Regions from separate parts of the Homo sapiens genome. Here region 2 is linked to region 1. Evidence: fine-mapped expression QTL. A gene starts in region 1. The other region holds a variant in brackets. All regions are shown on one strand. Distances are between the middles of the regions.

The links. PIP is the estimated chance that this variant, and not a neighbour inherited with it, causes the effect.
Region 2: its variant is the best candidate, but not a certain one, in a credible set for the expression of SAG in testis (GTEx, PIP 0.71).

What each region holds. Positions count from the first base shown.
Region 1 is chr2:233,305,521-233,309,907 of GRCh38, reverse strand. It overlaps SAG (S-antigen visual arrestin), which reads right to left and starts at 2,092. Exons shown (of 16, transcript NM_000541.5): 1 at 1,886-2,092; 2 at 644-746. The coding sequence starts at 718.
Region 2 is chr2:233,325,708-233,330,094 of GRCh38, reverse strand. SAG (S-antigen visual arrestin) reads right to left here. Exons shown (of 16, transcript NM_000541.5): 7 at 2,898-2,974; 8 at 1,482-1,617; 9 at 518-602. Among named protein-coding and RNA genes, the nearest start is that of SAG, 20 kb to the right of the region's middle. RefSeq lists enhancers at 1-617, 648-1,479, 2,777-3,754. The variant A/G (reference allele first, on the strand shown) is at 2,028.

The sequences.
Region 1 (4,387 bases):
ACTGACAAAACTGTGTTTAAATAGTAAGTCAAGGGTTCAAGGCTGGCTAGGAAAAGATGCAGAGGTGGGGGTGACAGTGTGGGGATTGAGGGATTCGGAGAAAACTGAGGGACACAGGACTAAAGTCTTGATGAGACTGAAGAGAAGCTCTATTTCTGCAGTTCATTCACTCATTTATAGCTCAGTGATCATCCATCTTAGACAGAGACAAAAATAGACACAAAGCTTCCCTGGCCCTCACAGTGTTTGTTTGTTTTTTATTTGAGACAGAGTCTCCCTCTGCTACCCAGGCTAGAGTGCAGTGGCACCATCTGGGCTCACTGCAACCTGTACCTCCTGGGTTCAAGTGATTCTTGTGCCTCAGCCTCCCAAGTCTGGGATTACAGGTGCCTGCCACCATACCCAGCTAATTTTTGTATTTTTAGTAGAGATGGGTTTTGCCATGTTGGCCAGGCTGGTCTCGAACTCCTGGCCTCAAGTTATCCCGCCTCCGCCTCCCAAAGTGCTGGGATTACAGGCATGAGCCACCGCGCCCTGGCCCTCAAAGAGTTTTGATGTTGATCATGACTACACTGTACTTGAAAAAGCTCCATTTTTTTTAAACAATAATTTCTATCAAATCACTCACTTGTGCACCACTCACCGATTTGTCCCGGGAGATCTTCTTGAAGATAACATGGTTCGGTTCGGACTTGCTGGTCTTCCCGCTGGCTGCCATGTTATCTGTCCCTGGCAACTTCTACCACCTTGGGGTGTTGGTCAGGTGTTAGAGGGTTGGAGAAAGGTAAGACAATCCTAAATATCAAGTCAAGAACATCCTAGTTATGAAACCTACTCACGAGATCCTGTGCGTCCTCACCATGCCCTTGTACCGGCTTCAACATCCGAGTTTCATCGGTGAGTCTTTGCTTAGTTTGTATTTTACTGCAGCATGCTTTGGGGTGTTTTCAATATTTTATTTTTCTTGGTAAGCTTCAAACATTTCTCAGTACACCTTGCCAGGGAGTCTAGCTAGATTCCAATGAGGTTTTACTTTCTGACTAACCTTTGGTGTTATCACACTTAGCCAGGTTGAATTTAAAGTTCTATCGTGACTGTGTCTAATGGCGAATAAATCAGAAAAGTTCCTGAAAACCACAACATAACCACTTCGCAAAGACTGTTTTCAAGAAGATATTAATGGCCGGGCACTGTGGCTCACACCTGTCATCTCAACATTCTGGGAGGCTGAAGCGAGAGGATCATTTGAAACCAGGAGTTGGAGACTGGCCTGGGCAACATAGCAAGATCCTATCACTTTTTTTAAAAAAAAAGAATATATTAAAATCCCAAAAGTTCTATTTGGCAATTCCTACTAAGAGATAGCCACTCTGTTTTACAATTAAGAGGCCATCTTAGCGGTCTAGAATTAAGCATACTCTGAGGTTTTTTTTTTTTTTAAGATATAGGAGCTCGTTCTGTTGCCCAGGCTGGAGGGCAGTGCCACAATCATAGCTCACCGCAGCCTCGAACTCCTGGGCTCGTGATCCTCCTGCCTCAGCCAGCTGAGTAGCCAGGACTACAGGTGTGTGACACCATGCCTAGCTAATTTATTTTTATTTTTGTTTTTTTGTAGAGACTGGGTCTGACTGTATTGCTCAAGTTGGTCTCGAATTCCTGGCTTCAAGTGATCCTCCAGCCTCAGCCTCCTGAGTCACTGGGACTATAGGCATGAGCCATTGCACCCGCTCACTCCAAGTCTCCTTAAATAGCAACCAAGTCTTATGGAAACCACACAGAAAAGGTGAAGGCGGGACATACTGTCTGCAGGAAAACGCCCATCCTTGCTCTTCCCCACACCTGCCCCAGGTTTCTGATAAGGTTTTGGCCTGTGGTGGTCACATACCTTGTGATTTGTCACCAACCAGGTGGGAAGGGCCGGGTGGCAAGGAGAGGGTCTCTATGCTCTGAGATGATGAATAGCCAGCCCCTGTTCTGAGCAAGCTGGTACCGTCTTGCCAGATGAGCCTGAAGGGGCACCGCTGAGGCTCCTGGCCTACGTATGTGGGGAATTTGTAGGGGATCTAGCGAGGATGCCCAGCATCCAGGTCTCAATGTCTAAAAGCCAAATCCCACTTAAGGAGCAGAGTTGGATTAGTGCTGAGACAGTGAACTGGTAGTTTCAGCAGTTCTAAGCATTAAGCAACACCCCCCGCCCCGGTCTCCATACGGAGGGTCTCACAGATGTATGAGTCACCCAGCTGACTTGGGGAAGGTTGGTGGGAGGGCCAACAGCTAAATGAAAGCTACTTTTTCTTCTAAACCTCTTTGGATTCTGGAAATAGACTGATTATCTCTTCATTCCCGGGCATTGCCAGGACAGGAAGAGATTTGATTAAACTCAGCAGGCAGCTAATGCGACCTTGCGGGTGGGGACTAAACAAAAAGGTCAAGGAGAAATGTCAACCTCAAGATGAACCTGGTGTTATGCAAGCCAAGCTGGATCTGTCCCTCTCCTCCACCCGGTCCTACTGATTGATGGCTTCAGGAGTCCTGTTGATCCCCTCAGTGTCTCTGGAACCTGTCTGCATCCTCCCATCCCCAGCACCGCCTTTGCTTCTCAGGACCGGAGTGATTCCCCACTGTCTGACTACATCTATTTCTTTTCTTTTTTTTGTTTTGTTTTTTGTTTTGAGATGGAGTCTTGCTCTGTCTCCCAGGCTGAAGTGCAGTGGTGCAGTCTCAGCTTGCTGAAACTTCTGCCTCCCAGGCTGAAGTGCAGTGGTGCAGTCTCAGCTTGCTGAAACTTCTGCCTCCCAGGTTCAAGTGATTCTCTTGCCTCAGCCTCCAGAGTAGCTGGGACTACAGGCGCCTACCACCACACTGAGCTAATTTTGTATTTTTAGTAGAGACAGGGTTTTACTATGTTGGCCAGGCTGGTCTCGAACTCCTGACCTCAGGTGATCCACCTGCCTCGGCCTCCCAAAGTGCTGGGATTCCAGGAATGAGTCACCGCACCCAGCCGACCACATTTATTTCTACCCTCCAAGCCCTTTTCCACACAGAGGCAGAGAGACCTTCTGAGCCCTGTCATCCCTCGCTTACAATCACCCATTGCTCTTAGAATGCAGGCAAAAAGCTTGCAGCCTCTGGAACCTCTGCCTGCCTTTCCTTCCACGCCGTCTGCCACGCTTCCTCCTTCCCACTATTATTTCTGCCTGGAACAAGCCTCTCCTCTCTCCACTTTGTTGACTCTTCTTGGCCTTTCAGATTTTTGACCAGGAGTCACTTCCTCAGGGGAGCTATCCCCAACCTCCAGGACCAGATTGGAGGCACGCTTGCATTTCACTCTTTTTTTTTTTTGCTTTCGAGATAGAGTCTCACTCTGTTGCCTGGGCTGGAGTGCAGTGGCGCGATCTCGGCTCACTGCAGCCTCCACCTCCTGGGTGCAAGCGATTCTCCTGTCTCAGCCTCCCGAGTAGCTGGGATTACAGTTGTGCACCAGCATGCCCAGCTAATTTTTGTATTTTTAATAGAGATGGGGTTTCGTCATGTTGGCCAGGTTGGTGTCAAACTCCTGGCCTCCTGAAGTGCTGGGATTATAGGCATGAGCTACCGTGCCTGGCCACATTTCACTCTTGCTTGGGAATTATTCTACAGTCTCTCTTCCCTCACTGGAGTCCAGGCTCCATGAGGGCAGGGCCTAGGCCATTTTGTTTCCTTCACTTTTGTCTTCACAGTGCCCAGAACAATGCCTGCTCCCAAGAACACTCAGGGAATGGATGGAGGGGACTCTGCGACCACTAACACACTTACATGGGGGACTGACTTGGGAATGAAACAAGTATATGCAGAAAGCCTGTTCTGACGTTTGGGGTATCAGCATCCACCCAAACATTCCAATGGCTTCCCATTTAAGTCTGGACAATGCTTGCCAGGTCCGGCATGCTCTGGCCCCCCTTTACCTCTGACTTTATTTCTCACCACCCTCTCCCTTGCCCACTTCACTCCAGAGTACTGAGCCTGTTTTCTTTTCTTTTAGAGACAGGGTCTCGCTCTGTCACCCAGGCTGGAGTGCAGTGGTGCAATCATAGCTCACTGCAGCTTTGAACTCCTGGGCTCAAGCGCTCCTCCCACTTAAGCCTCCCGAGTAGCTAGGACTACAGGCACATGCCACCACACCCAGCTAATTCTTTAACCTTTTTGTAGAGATGGGGTCTTGCTATGTTGCTCAGGCTGGTCTCGAACTCCCAACCTCAACTGATCCTCTCACCTCAACCTTCTAAAGTGTTGGGGTTACAGACGTGAGCCACCACCACTGGCCTGCTTTTCTTTAAACCTCCGTCTAGGCCTTTCCACTTGCTATTTCCTCTCCTGGAACAGTCTTCCCACAGCCAGCCACATGGCT
Region 2 (4,387 bases), 20 kb before region 1:
CTCCCCTGTAGGATATGGGAAGGTCAGCCATGACATGATGGCCATTTGAGCCGAGACAGTCACACTTCACCATTTACAAAGCGCTTCCATGTGGGACCTCCTTCAAGCCACACAAAGCCTGGGAAGGTAGACAAGGAGCCCCTGCTGTGGATGCCAGCTGGGATCACAGAGCCCACAGCATGAGTCCACAAATTAGGCCTCACCCACAACAATGTGCTGCATCTGTCAACCACAATGAGCACTGTGGGGCCCTCCAGGAAGGCATAACCATGGAAAGAGATCACTTGCCAGGAATTTTGTTCCAAGACAAAAACCAGCCGTAAGTGGGCAGGAAGTTGAATGAGATAACTTGTAAGGCCTTTCTCCCTCCGCAGTCCTGCTGCCTATGACAGCAGAGACAAGTAGCCAGTTCCAAGGACCCAGAAGGGCCTTATCAGACCAGAGAAGTGACCTCTCAGGAAACAGGATCAGAAATTCTAGAAGACTATGCCCTCTACTTCTGAGAAGAAGGTCCTACCGAATGCTTTAATCTTCTTCACGGTCTTCTCTGTGTTATTGGTGACAGTCACGGTCACAGGGATGGGCTCCCCATGGAAATAGATCTAGAAAAGTCAGCAGATAGGTCAGAAGAAGAGAACAGATGTGGCGGTGTCTTTAATCTTACTGCTTTCTAGATTCATCTCAATCCCTTTCACTGGAATAAAAGCGGCAGAATTTAAGGAAGATGAAGTGATAGCAATACATTTCTTCTAAGGAAGGGCCTGAAACACATTCCACCCATCTGTGGGAAGCTGGGGAGGGGAACAGAGTTCCGATCATCACATCGGAGGAGGCCAGGGGTCAGGAGGTTATGGGGGCAGGATGAGTGAAGTGAAAGGAAACCACTGGGAAAGCCAAGTGCTGGCATCCCACCCAGCAGAGCCCGTGTAACACAGCCCCTGGCACACCCACACACGTGTATACACACAGTGCACAAATGGCTGACTGCTGACCAGAGGAACCAGAGCCAGCCTTGGCCAGCAGCTCTCACCTTTTCCCACCATGACACCCCTAAGAGATGACATCACAGGTGACACTGCCATCCCACATGGTTTCTGCAAAACTTAAATTTCCCAGGAAGTGAAGAATTTGGGATACCACAGCTATTGATGCTCCATGAGTGAACAAGGCCCATGGAGGTGGACAGGACAAGGACAGCTGGGGGGCAGGTATGTGAAAAGCAGCGCCCCTTCCTTCCCCAGTCCCTCGGGACAGCCAGTGGGTGGAACGCAAGCCAGTTCCGTCCTCCTCTAAGGACCATGCTGACCAGCTCCAGGCTGTGAAAACAGGCCAGTCACTTACGCATGTTGGTGCTTTATCCTAGAAACAAGCTTCCTTGCAAGGCACCCATGTAGTTAAGGGCTGGGGCTGGTGAAGAGAGGGGTGTGGGGCCTGCCCCTAGGCCTGCTGCCCTGCGGGTAGTAGCGATGGTAGGTGGTTACCTCTTTGTTGAGAGAGACCGCAAGGTGCAGGGGCTTGTCAGACATGAAGAACTGCCAGGCCGCCTCAGCTCGGGGCTGGGGACCCATCTCAAGTGGGGCATGCTGTACTTTGCGGATCAGTAATCGCACGGAGCTCCTGTGGGAAACAGCCACAGACAAGCCAGGGATTGGCACCCAGGCCGCTTTAGGGAGGCTTCTGTTCTCTCCCCACTGTCACATGGAGATTCTCCAGGAATGCTCCCCATGGAGACAGGGTGGACGGGAAGAGGGCAACGACACTGGTCAGAGCCTGAGGCAGCCCTGACGGTGGAAGAGCCTGGGGGTCTGGGTCCTGGTCCCTTCCCTGTGGGGGAAGCTGTGGGGCCAGGCAACATCCCGAGGGCCAAGCTTAGCCCCTTAGGCTCCGTGGATTCCCAGCTCTGCCTCCTGTCAGCAAGGCTAAGGTGTGAGGGCGTCAAGGGCCTCATGGAATAGCTGCCATATACATGCGAGCTCCATTACTGCAGCTCACTATCCTGCGCCTCCAGAGATGTGTACATGGGGCAC[A/G]AGGAGACAGTGCGAAGGGCCAGGCGGAAATCTTGTTTAGGTAAAAAAAAAACAGCACAGGGGGTGGGAGAATGGGAAGGATGGAGCGGTAGGCTCAATGGTTGTAGAGTTCCTGCTCAGGCAATGGGAAAGTTTTGGGTATAGACAGCGGTGAAGGCTACACAACATTCGGAATGTACTTAAGCCACTGAATGGTACATTTAAAAGTGGTTAAAATGGGCCGGGCACAGTGGCTCACGCCTGTAATCCCAGCACTTTGGGAGGCCAAGGCGGGCGGATCACTTGAGGTCAGGAGTTCAAGACCAGCCTGGCCAACATGGTGAAACCCATCTCTACTAAAAATACAAAAAAAAAAAAATTAGCCAGGCGTGGTGGCGCACGCCTGTAATCCCAGCTACTCGGGAGATTGAGGCAGGAGAATCGCTTGAACCTGGGAGGCGGAGGTTGCAGTGAGCCGAGGTCACATTGCACTCCAGCCTGGGGGACAGAGCGAGGCTCCATTTCAAAAAATAAAAGAAAAAAAGAAAAAAAAGTGGTTAAAATGGCAAACTTCATGTTGTGTACATTTTACCACAAAAAACAAACAAACAAACAAACAAACAACAACAACAAAACTTCAACAAAGGGGAAACCCGGGAGCTTTTCGGGGCTTACGTGAGCCCTGGAGGTTGCTAACTTCCCTGTCATTTTCTTGTTTTCTTTTTTTTCCCCAAAAATGATCAACCTTTGACCTCCATCCCACATGCAGATGGTACCCCAGCCGTGCCAGCCCTATGGGAAGAGGTCTGTCCCACAGAGACAAGGTGGAGGTCGTCTCTTCTCTCCACCCCCACCGCAGACCCCTCACCTATTCCGCAACCATACTCTTACTTCTTGGGGATTTTGTCCTCTTCGGCATCGGTGCTGTCTGTGGCGAATGCTTTGACCTCAAAGTCAACCCCACAGGACTGTTGGGGAGAGAGAGCAGACAGGCAGCGATCAGCGACTCCCTCCCTGGGTGCCGGGCCAGAGGGCCACACCTCACACAGGGCACATGATGTGGCACTATCTCTTTTTGTCTTGGCCATGTCCTATTCGGGGTTGCACCATTTAGGGATTTGGAAGCATACTGACAGTGAAACAATTACAGTAGCGCAAGGAGTGTGCCATGGGCCCAAAGCCCCCAGAGGGAGGGGATCCACCTGCCCCATGAGCCCTCCTGCTGCCGTGGAGAGTCATTCACATCCTGGCTATCCTTGCCTCCTGCCACCTTGCACACTTAGGTGTCCCCAACTGTGATCCCATGCATCTTACTGACTTCCACTGCCTACAGCAGGGGCCAGAGGTACAGGCACTCACAGGGCCAGCGCTGGGGTCCAGGAATGCCCTGATAGGGTATGGAAACCCTGACCCCCATGGTCACCTGCTGTTCAGCGGCAGCCTCATGTGGCCAGGCAGCAAGGCACCCAGTGCGGGCAGCACGATTTTTTTTTTTTTTTTTTGGAGATGGAGTCTTGCTCTGTTGCCCAGGCTGGAGTGCAAGTGGCATGATCTCGGCTCACCACAACCTCCGCCTCCCGAGTTCAAGCAATTCTCTTGCCTCAGCCTCCTGAGTAGCTGGGATTACAGGTGTGCACCACCATGCCCGGCTGATTTTTGTATTTTTAGTAGAGTTGGGGTTTCACTAGGTTGGCCAGGCTGGTCTTAAACTCTTGACCTCATGATCCGCCTGCCTTGGCCTCCCAAAGTGCTGGGATTATAGGTGTGAGCCATCGCGCCCAGCCAGCTTGATTTTTAAAAAAGAAACTTCACGTGGAATTTGGAGTGAAATCTCCTAGTTTTTAAATTAAATAAAAAGACTTTTAAGCATTGTGTGGGCTGAATGAACGGATCTGCCAGTGACCTTCCCCCGATTCCCAGTGTGTGAAGCCCCTGGCCCCCAGTGCAAGCCCTTTGTAACCTCCCTCATCTCTGCACGTTCACATGCGTTGGGGAGCCAGAGGAGGGCACCGGCCTGCCCTCCACCACTGCCTGGAGGGGAAAGTAGAGCTGGCAAAAATTACAGGAAGCCAGCTCTGTCCATGGTGACATATGAGGCACGGATTTATTGGTTCTGCAACCAGGGAATCATAGCAGTCCTAAACTCTAAGTGGAAAATAAATATGCATCCTTCCCTGCCATCAGCCGGCCGTTGTTGAGCCACACCAACGCCTGTTCTGCTCGCCCACCTGGGCTTCTCAGCTGTCAAGCCCCCAGGCCCCCAGGCATTCAGGCACTTCTCTCAAGCTCCCTGGGCTCAGGGCGCACCCACTTTCCTGAAGCCCTGCAGCTGTGCTAAGACCTGCTCCTCTCCTAGAACAGAAAATAGGTGGTGCTTTGTT